3 linked regions of the Homo sapiens genome follow. The gene in region 2 interacts genetically with the main gene of each other region. Each region holds a gene or a part of one and is shown on either strand. Other genes may lie near its edges. The genes, in order: ATG7, RALGAPB and ACACA.

What was found.
Region 1: of RALGAPB (region 2) and ATG7, changing one enhances a phenotype caused by changing the other (phenotypic enhancement), as found in Homo sapiens cells (one large-scale study listed by BioGRID).
Region 3: changes in RALGAPB (region 2) and ACACA together harm fitness more than expected from each alone (negative genetic interaction), as found in Homo sapiens cells (one large-scale study listed by BioGRID).

The regions. Positions count from the first base shown.
Region 1 is NC_000003.12:11,278,742-11,282,396, forward strand, and holds part of ATG7 (ubiquitin-like modifier-activating enzyme ATG7), read left to right. Parts: exon of another isoform or gene 1-79; intron 80-2,252; 5' UTR 2,253-2,361; intron 2,362-3,428; exon of another isoform or gene 3,429-3,451; 5' UTR 3,452-3,655. UniProt on the Homo sapiens protein: E1-like activating enzyme involved in the 2 ubiquitin-like systems required for cytoplasm to vacuole transport (Cvt) and autophagy.
Region 2 is NC_000020.11:38,549,335-38,552,989, reverse strand, and holds part of RALGAPB (ral GTPase-activating protein subunit beta), read right to left. Parts: intron 1,920-3,655; coding exon 1,767-1,919; intron 1-1,766. UniProt on the Homo sapiens protein: Non-catalytic subunit of the heterodimeric RalGAP1 and RalGAP2 complexes which act as GTPase activators for the Ras-like small GTPases RALA and RALB.
Region 3 is NC_000017.11:37,256,832-37,260,486, reverse strand, and holds part of ACACA (acetyl-CoA carboxylase 1), read left to right. Parts: intron 1-956; coding exon 957-1,127; intron 1,128-2,113; coding exon 2,114-2,275; intron 2,276-2,620; coding exon 2,621-2,784; intron 2,785-3,655. UniProt on the Homo sapiens protein: Cytosolic enzyme that catalyzes the carboxylation of acetyl-CoA to malonyl-CoA, the first and rate-limiting step of de novo fatty acid biosynthesis.

The sequences.
Region 1 (3,655 bases), on a different chromosome or scaffold from region 2:
AAAATGAGAAGCTGACATGGTTCCTTTCTCATAGAATTTTTATTCTACTGAGGAGGATAACTGCATACGTGCTATGAAGGTAAGGTAGTTGGTGCTCTTTGAGGACTAGAATACAGGAGGATCGACCTAATCCAGAGCTGAGGGAGTCAGGGAAGGCTTCCCTCAGAAGTGATGATTGAGCTGTGATTTGAAGTGAGCAAAGAAATTCACTAGATGATGGGTATGTGGAGGTGGCCAAGAAAATTCTAAGCTTATGCAGAGGCCATGGGGTGTTTCTGCAGCTGATGATGTGGAGCTGAGTCAGCTTCCTCCCTTTGCCTGGAGAGTCCCCACTCCCTACCTCTAGCCTCCTCATCCAGGGGTCCTTGCATGGGGCTAGTGCTGTCATCTAACCCTCCCTTTCTCAACCATCAGGGGTGGGTTTAGAAGTTTGTGGAGCTGTTTTATTTTGCTTTGTTTTGTGACATTGACCAGAGGGCATTACTGCATTTATTGAGAGAGAGCCAGAGATGCTCAACATTCTGCAGTGTGCAGGGATAGCTCTAAACAAAAAAGAATTGTTCCATCCAGCATGCCAGTAGGGCCCCTGTTGAGAATCTACTTGGATGTTCTTAAAACCTTGGGTTAAGGGTTTCTATAGGATATTCTTAAAACCTTGGCTTGGCTGGGTGTGGTGGCTCACGCCTGTAATCCCAGCACTTTGGGAGGCCGAGGCGGGTGGATCACAAGGTCAGGAGTTCGAGACCAACCTGACCAACATAGTGAAACCTTGTCTCTACTAAAAATACAAAAATTAGCCAGGCATGGTGGCGGGTGCCTGTAATCCCAGCTACTCAGGAGGCTAAGGCAGGAGAATCGCTTGAACCCGGGAGGCAGAGGTTGCAGTGAAGCCGAAATTGAGCCACCTCCCTCCAGCCTGGGTGACAGAGCAAGACTCTGTCTCAAGACTCCGTCTCAAAAAACAAAAAATAAAAAGCAAACAAACAAAAAAACCCCACCTTGGCTTAAGGGTTTCTATAGGAAACACTGTTGCCTCATCAGTCTAATTTAGATATCCCTCCTCCTATAACATTCTGTACAAACGCCAGGCTATACTGTATTTGTTTTACCTCCAAATTGCTATACTCCGATTCCTCTTCTGTTTTGTTGTCTGTTTTGGCTTCAAAATTGTTAGCTCTTTAAAGGTGGGGACCATAGTTTTTTTTTTTTTTGCCATTGAACCCTGAAATGTAGCACAGGGACAAGTATGTAACATAACTGTTTATTGAAGAAATAACTAATGGAAGCCCCAATTTCATTTCTTTTCTTTTCTTTTTTTTTTTTGAGACAGAGTCTTGCTGTGTCACCCAGGCTGGAGTGCAGTAGTGCTATCTCAGCTGACTGCAACCTGCGCCTCCCGGGTTCAAGCAATTCTCAAGCTTCAGCCTTCCGAGTAGCTGGGATTACAGGCGCCTGCCACCATGCCCGGCCCTTTTTTTGTATTTTTAGTAGAGACGGGATTTCGCCATGTTGGCCGGGCATGTTATTGGTAAACAATATGATATTAGTCCTGCTTTTTGAGTGTCTCCTATGGGCCAGATGTATGCATTTTCTAGTTGAATCTTCACACTAATTCTGCACAGTAGGTGGTATCCCCATCTAACAGAAGAGGAAACAGACTCGGAGAAGTTGAATGACTTGTCCAAGGTGGTGTGGCTAGAAAGTAGCAGAGACAGGATTTGAACTCAGGTCTCTCTGGCTCATGAACCTATGCCCTTTCCAGTCTAGCAGACCATCTGCCTTGTCCAGTTGTTTTCTTGAACTTAGATTTAGGGCCCTAGATTTACCTCTATGAAATTTCAAATCTTGTTAAAATAGGCCTGCCATTCCAGATGGTTGGAATCTTTTTTTATCCTGAATTTTAGTCACTTGTATTGCCTGTTTCTTCTTTTGTCATGAAATTGATAAGCAAATCTATATCATTATCCAAGTTATTGGTAAAATATGGTAATAAGAATACTTTATTGAATATGTTTATTTGCCTATTCCCCCTGCTCTTAGCCCCAGCACAGGGTTCAGTGCACATGAAATACTTAGTAAATGTTGATAAATATTCATTCATGTGGATAAATAAAATAAATTGGACAGGCCCAGAGACTAAGCCAAAGACGTACTGCTATTAGCTCCTTTCTAATTAACATTAATTAATTCAGTAACCAAGATCCTTTGAATAAGATTATTTTACCAGTTCTTAATCCCTCTAATTATGTCAGGATCCAATTCCTGTATCTTCACCTTGTCTACCGGGATTTCTAGAGCAGCCTTGTGAGAGACATTTCTGAGACCTGTATGTCCTGCGTCTATGATTCTTCCCTGATCAAGGTAGGAATGCAGTTACTCTGTCATGACTTTTTCTTAGAGAAACCATATTGGCCTCTTGTGATTACTTAGGGCTGCCTCATACAGTTATGCAGGCTGTGCACTGCACAAGAGGCCACATCAAAGGGGGTTCCATTTATATCATAGGTATCATGGGTGCATTTTTGTAATGACAGTGGCAGAGAAGGCTACCATGTCTTGAGCTAATCTAATCAGTATATTACAACATTTCTCTAACTAAAGGAAGTAAAATCTTGAAGCAGAGGTGTAATTTTCTGATTGTACAAAGGTGCTAAGTGGACTAGAGTGGCCCATATGGGCCTTTCCTGGGAGCAAAACTTCTGTCCAGTGGTCTTTAGAACCCATCTTTATTCTTATCTTTGAAAAATCAGGCCGGGTGTGGTGGCTCACGCCTATAATCCCAGTACTTTGGGAGGCTGAGGCAGGTGGATCACCTGAGGTCAGGAGTTCGAAACCAGCCTGGCCAATATAGTGAAACCCTATCTCTACTAAAAATACAAAAAATTACCTGGGCGTAGTGGCGGGCGCCCATAATCCCAGCTACTTGGGAGGCTGAGGCAGGAGAATTGCTTGAACGTGGGAGGCAGAGGTTGCAGTGAGCCGAGATCGTGCCATTGCACTCTAACCTGGGCAACAAGAGCGAAACTCCATCTCAAAAAAAAAAAAAAAAAGAGAAAAGAAACAAAGAAAAATCAAACATTTTGAAAATCGGAAATCAGGCCTTTGCTTGGCCCAGTTTTAAAGTACTTCTCCCGTTTCTCAGGATTCTTTAAACATACCAGAAATGAAAACCACAGAGATGTAATTATTTAGAAGCAAGCCTTCATAACTCAGCCAGCTTTTAGGAAACCATCATAGATTTTAGTTGTTGGTTGGCATAGGGCTCCACAGTGATTTAGACAAATCCAGGTGGGTGTCTCTCAGATGAACAGAGAAATGGGCAACACTGTTGATCAGTGGAGGTAACAAAAGGACTCAGAAGGAGGCACACTGCCCTCCATCTTCCTGGCATTATTGCTTCCTCTCTCCTCTTTCCCACATTTTCTCAGCTGTCACTGTCCCTCCCATGTAGGCTTCTCAAACCCCATAATGCTGGTATCCAGTGCATCCGTTCTCAAAAACTGAAGCTGATGGACACCAGATTGCATGTGAAGGTGAAGGATATTATAGCAGAAGGAAACCAAAATAAAAGAAAAACAGCTCCTGGAAGTAACCAATGAGAAGGACAGATAAGAGTTTGAAGACTGTGGATGTGACTGCTTGTTCCCTGGTTGAC
Region 2 (3,655 bases):
CCCAACTAAACTGAAGCCCCCACATCTAACAGCTAAATACCCTCTCCTTAAGCACATTAAATGGCTGTGTTGAACCTCCTTCCAAATTTCCACACCTGTCAATCTCCACACCAGTCAAATTCTTTACTTATGCTTCCAGATCCCAAGGACTTTTGAAGAAAGTCAGCAGAGTGAGTTAAATAACTTCACTATAGATAATGCTACTTAACCTCAGCTGCACTGCCTGGCAATTCTTAAGAACTGTCTGGGATCCCCTATTACACTGCCAAGAACCAGGATTAAAATTTTCATAAACTTCTTCAATTTCCCTCCTTTCCTCTCTAAATGTCTCTGAACCTTCACCTACTCTCTCCTTCTGTCTTAGAAGCATCTCTTTTCTAGACTAGACTCTTGACCCTACTGCCTCTATTACTTGTAAGTCCCACTGCCCATCTTACAGTGTTAGCCAGACTCCTCTCTACTGGTTTCTTCCTTTCAATCTATAAGCATGTTCATAATCCTCACATCCTTGAATGTAAAAAAATATTTAAAAACTAGCCTTTTCTGGCCGGGTGCGATGGCTTACACCTGTAATTCTCAGCACTTTGAGGGGAGGCAAAGGAGGGTGGATCACCTGAGGTCAGGAGTTCGAGACCGGCTTGGCCAACATGGTGAAATCCCGTCTCTACTAAAAATACAAAAATTGGCCAGGCATGGTGGCATGCGCCTGTAATCACAGCTACTTGGGAGGCTGAGGTAGGAGAATCACTTGAACCCGGGAGGCGGAGATTGCAGTGAGCTGAGAATGCACAACTGTACTCTAGTCTGGGCAACAAGAGCGAAACTCCATCTCAGAAAAAAAAAAAAAAATCAGCCTTTTCTTTCCTTAACGAGGCCATTTCCTTAAGCTATAATATTACCCATTCTGTACCCTTGCCTTTACTGTTAACAGTGTAGTTTCTATTCACTGCCTGTCCCTCAATACATTCACTCCCCAGCCCTTTGAATTATCCCTCCTACTGTACACACCTGTTCTCAAAGGTCACCTAAATTTCATGCCAAAATTCAGGGGACTTTTTCTATTCCTTCTTCTCCCTGGTCTCTCCAGCATTGGAGAGTGTAGCCCTTCCTCCATTCCTGCTCTTCTGTTCTCTCATGTCCTGACATACTTCTGTCCCCGACTTCTTAAAATTCTTCTCCCTTGACCTAAGAGACAGTTATCTTAATTAACTCTCTAAATTAATCCAAAGCCAAATAAATTTTTCCCATCTTCCCAAATCTATCCTCTTCCTAATGTCTGCATTTCTGTAAATGGCACTGATATCTCTTTGTCACTCAAGCTCAAAATCTGAAATTCTTTGGCTCTTTTCCTTCCCTCACCAATTCAAGACTGCTTGGATCTACCTCCACAATACATTTTATATATTAAAATTCCATATGAGTGAAATAGTCCTTCCTTTCTTATAAAGACTTAGATTCTCATAATAGTCTCTGAACTGGTCTTCCTTTTCCAAATAACTCTACTACCAGAGTCTGATCATGTCACTACAGTACTGAAACCTACCACGAACAGCCAGGCAGCCCAGCAACACCTCTAAGAGATATGCAGTTCCTTTCGATCAGCCACAATCTATATTCGTCTTAAACATGGCAACCTCCTGGATGATGGAGGCCCATGTCATCTTAAAAATCATCTCCAACAACACTAAAAGCATTGTCTTGACCAAGGAAGTCGTAAGAATGTTTCTATTCATCCCCTTGACAACAGCTAAAAATAATGTACTTACTTCTTCAGTGACTATTTCATGCAAATCTGGAATGCTGAGATCTGCTTTCACAAAAGGAATCTTGTCCACCTCTTCAGGAAATGGCCGATGTTTCACAGAATATTTAAATCCAACGTCATTTTTAGGAACTGGGCGAGGTTCAGGTACAAAAAGCTGTTAAAACAAGTAACATTATGTTTATTACACAGGGTCCAATACCCATCTGTAATGACATGTATTTCCCTGGTCTCTTAGATGCCTGTGTTTCCCTAGGATTACATGTCACAAAAACTCACTCAGAACCTGCAAATGCTACAGATAACAGCAAAGGGAAGCAGCCTGTGCCCCTGTGTACTCTATTTTTCTAAAAATATTCATCGACTTCTTATAGATCTAATGACTGACAAATGGGCTGTGGACCTCTACTGCTGCAGGCCTGAATCTCCCACATTCAGTGGTTATCCAATGGGTATAGCATTTTGGAGCTTTAAGACTCAAACTCTCTTCCCCAGGGGCTCTCACATCATTCAATATAATTAAAGACAAGTTTGGCTTCACTGGGCATCTCTAGAAAGTGATTTTAACAAGAATCTTAATACGGCTTAATTGAGAGTATGGGCACCAAATCTAGGTCTTCACAGCTCCAAATCCATGCTTTAATATGTATATGGGTACATGGTGAACCCTAAACAAATTTTAGCTCCTTTCCTGGTCCCCTTCCTCTTCAGTCTTCAATGCTAACTTACTGGCTTACAGAGTTGATGACAGGATGTGCTCTGTACTGCCCCCTCCAAAAAAATGGAGGACTGGGTGATAAACACATCACATCTAACAGAGACATCTAAGATATTAAATGATTTTAGGCACATGCTCCAATTTTGTGGTGTCTCTCAAATGCTAGTGAAATATTAAGTCACATTTTAAATTTTTTTTAATCACATTTTTTTATTATGATACTTTAAGTTTTAGGGTACATGTGCATAATGTGCAGGTTAGTTAAATATGTATACATGTGACATGCTGGTGCGCTGCACCCACTAACTCGTCATCTAGCATTAGGTATATCTCCCATTGCTATCCCTCCCCACTCCCCCTACCCGACAACAGGCCCCAGAGTGTGATGTTCCCCCTCCTGTGTCCATGTGTTCCCACTGTTCAATTCCCACCTATGAGTGAGAATATGCGGTGTTTGGTTTTTTGTTCTTGCGATAGTTTACTGAGAATGATGATTTCCAATTTCATCCATGTCCCTACAAAGGACATGAACTCATCATTTTTTATGGCTGCATAGTGTTCCATGGTGTATATGTGCCACATTTTCTTAATCCAGTCTATCATTGTTGGACATTTTATATTTTTAATAGCAGAAATAAAAGCTTACAATGTTATAAATGAAAAGAGCAGTATACAAAATGACTCAAATTCTATTCAAGTGTTATTGTGTATGAAAAGAAAAAAAGGGAAGGAAATCCAATAAAATATTAGCAGTGGTTATATTCCTCTGGATAGTGAGTAAAGGTGATTTAAAATTTCTTCGTTATCTGAATTTTTCCAACTTCTCAAGTATTATTCACATAATTACAAATGTAATAAAATAAACTGCACCCCAAAAGATTTCATTAAATTATACACAGCATACATATGTGTGTGTGTGTGTGTATATGTATGTGTGTGTGTGTGTATATATATATATATTTTTTTTTTTTTTTTTAATTAGGCTGGGTGTGACAGCTCACATCTGTAATCCTAACACTTTGGGAAGCTGAGGTGGGAAGATCACTTGAAGACAGAAGTTTGGGATCAGCCTGGGCAACAAAGCAAGACCCTATCTCTACAAAAAATTTTAAAAATGAGCTGGGTGCCATGGCATGTGCCTACAGTCTCAGCTACTCAGGAGGATGAGGCAAGAG
Region 3 (3,655 bases), on a different chromosome or scaffold from region 2:
ACTAAAGATATAAAAATTAGCCTGACATGGTGGCATGTGCCTGTGATCCCAGCTACTCAGGAGGCTGAGGTAGGAGAATCACTTGAATCCGAGAGGCGGAGGTTACAGTGAGCCGAGATTGCGCCACTGTGCTCCATCCTGGGTGGGTGACAAAGCGAGACTCCATCTCCAAAAAAAAAAAAAAAAAAAATATATATATATATATATATATATATATATATATATATATATATATATGACTTGGGAGTTATGCATATCACTTACCAATGCTGGTGTCCTGTTTGTCAAAACTTAGCCACTAACCAGGCCAGGCATGGTGGCTCACGCCTGTAATCCCAGCACTTTGGTAGGCCAAGGCGAGTAGATCACTTGAGGTCAGGAGTTTGAGACCAGGCTGGCCAACATGGGGAAACCCCATCTCTACCAAAAATACAAAAATTAGCCAGGCATGGTGGCGCATGCCTGTAATCTCAGCTACTTGGGGGGCTGAGGCAGGAGAATCACTTGAACCCGGGAGGCAGAGTTTGCAGTGAGCCACGAGATTGTGCCACTGGACTCCAGCCCAGGAGACAGAGTGAGACTCTGTCTCAAAAAAAAAAAAAAAAATCTAGTCTCTAACTAGTTAGCTATGTTTCTAGGAAGAAGAGGAGCATATTGGAAATACTGGAAACTGGACAAGAGTCTGTCCCCATGTTTTTTTGTCTGCATGCATTTATGTCTGGTGGGGTGAGGTTGCTTTTGATGCAAAGTGAAAAATGCTCTTTTCTCCCGATTTTTCATTGAGTTTTTCATCCTTGTCCAGGGATATTGTATAATAATCAGAAATGTGCTCTCATGTGGCTAAAAGCTTTTGATGGCTCTTATACACACTGAACAGTTGAGTCAGTGAGAGGCTGTAGTGGTCTAGCAGTTGGATAAGGTGAGATACTTATGTTTGCTTATCTCTCTTCTTTGAGTGTGCGGTGAAACTTGCCAAAATGGTGGGTTATGTGAGTGCTGGGACTGTGGAATACCTGTACAGCCAGGATGGCAGCTTCTACTTTCTGGAATTGAATCCTCGGCTGCAGGTAGAGCACCCTTGTACAGAGATGGTGGCTGATGTCAATCTCCCTGCAGCACAGCTCCAGGTGAGTCTCCCTGATCTGGGTTGCAGAGCCTAGAAAAGTCAGAGAGGCCTGAAAAATGGGTTTAACCAGTGTGTGATAAGAGAAAAGCACCTCCTATCTGAGTCACACCTAATGGTCATTTCTCTTTCACCCTGTATGTGTTATGCATGTGTGGTTTGGTTTTCCTGATGTAGTACAGACATAGGAATGTTATTTTTTCTAGCCAGACACATCTGATATAATGTGTCATGTTTTAGAAATAAATGTTAATAATGTATGCTTTATTCAATTATTTAGCTATAGTAAACTTCACAACTTTGTATTATAATTATTCCCTACTCATTTTTGTTTTTTTACTAGTGTTCTTTATTGAAATAATTCTGCATCAGAGATTAGTGGTTGAAGTTTTTCCTTACAAGAGTGTGGTAGCACACATATATTTTTATAATTTGTAAAGTGCTTGCTGTCAATATTATTGTCTTCTCTCAGCCCAGGAAACAAATATTATGGAAAGCAGTAATAGTTAATGATAAGGCTTGATATTATTTTTATCTAACATTTGCCCACATCGAGAACACCTTCTGGGTTCCTATTAAAGACTAAAGATTTACTTACTTCCTCCAGTGGTTTGCAGGGATGGAAGAGATAATTATGACACAATTAAGACTTTCTAGCTGTCTGTTTTTGGATGGCTATTAACATTTACTCCTCTGTTGGATATTTTCATTCTTATTACGTGATGGAGAAATGACAACAGGGGAACTGGTGTCTGTTGCATTAGGAATGTGGGGACTTCTTTAGAAGTGGAGAATATTCTAACTACTTATCTGTAGTGATATATTGTATTTCAAGCAACTTAGAGTTGATGATTGTAGAATACAGGTTATAAAAATAGAATGTTTTAGGGAGTGGCTCCAAAAATAAAAATATTTTAGGTTATCTGATAGCCTCTACACTTTAAGGGAAGTAACTGAAAAATTAAAGATGTGTGTTTTATTACCTTTCAGATTGCCATGGGGATTCCTCTATATAGAATCAAGGATATCCGTATGATGTATGGGGTATCTCCCTGGGGTGATTCTCCCATTGATTTTGAAGATTCTGCACACGTTCCTTGTCCAAGGGGCCATGTTATTGCTGCTCGGATCACTAGTGAAAATCCAGATGAGGTAACCCATCACTTAAAAGGTTTATACCTCCTTTTAATGAACTTTAATGTTAAGATAGTATCTGAAAGTATACTTCTGAAATATCTTGGGACTTCCTCTGGAGTGGGAAACATAGAGGTTTCTCAGAGCAGATAAGTAAATGGTTGTTGCTTCATTGGTTACTTAATCCCACTTAAGTCACTGTAGAGTCTTCAGTGGGTCTGTGGCACTGGGTCTTGGCCTTTATCATTTTTGTGTGTCTTCTCTGCTTCTGTGTGTGATTAACAGAGAACTTAAACAATGAATATATAAATCTTCTCTTCCTTCGAAACATAATATGGTCTCTCATTCTTTATTCTCTAACAGGGTTTTAAGCCCAGCTCAGGAACAGTTCAGGAGCTAAATTTCCGCAGCAATAAGAATGTTTGGGGATATTTCAGTGTTGCTGCTGCAGGGGGACTTCATGAATTTGCTGATTCTCAGTTTGGTCACTGCTTTTCTTGGGGAGAAAACAGAGAAGAGGCAATTTCGTGAGTATAATAGCATTTGATTGCATTTTACAAAATAAATTTGTGCTAATCTTAAGTGAAGGTGTGAGCATGGGAATAGGAATCATCTGCTGTCAAAGTAATAATATGAACAACCTTTTTGAAGAAATTTTGAATATCTTTAATTACACTTGCATTCATGTTGTATTAAATTATGCAGTGCTTGGCAGATGTTTTTCTGTTTGTTGTTCTGAGCCTTTTGAAGTATTTTTCCTTTCAAATATTTTTGATAAATGTATAAAATTGATTGCTTTAAAGGTATCTTATTTTTCCACAGGAACAGTATTGTTATTGAGGGGAGGTAGATTCTTGGCCAAGAACTAGGTATCAAATAAATCATAGACTTTTATTTTATTTTTTTCTTGTGAGAAGACTTAAAATCTATTAGCAATTTTCAAGTACACAATCTATTGTTATGAGCCATAGTCACCATGATGTACTCTTATAGTTATTTAAAATAATAAAATTATACTGCTCATATTATGAAAAGGACATAAAGAAACTGTCTACATTGCTAATACAAGAGACCTTAGCATGCTGTATATAACAGCTTATGCAAATATAACTGCTATATCATAAATGTTAGATAATATTCTGTTAATCATAAACAATGAATATTAAATTAACAGCACTTTTGCTTGCCTAAAACATAGGGCTGAAGGAGGTAATTTTAACAGCTTAGATCTTTTGGAATATCTATCTAAAATTGAAACTTGAACTAGTTCTTTTCTGTTTTTTAATGGTTTATTGCCTTGTATCAAACATTTAATACCATTCCCTTTACCTTTGTACTGTACATGGAGTAGGTAATTAATAAGTGTTTATTAGTATTAATTACTAATAAATAGCATTT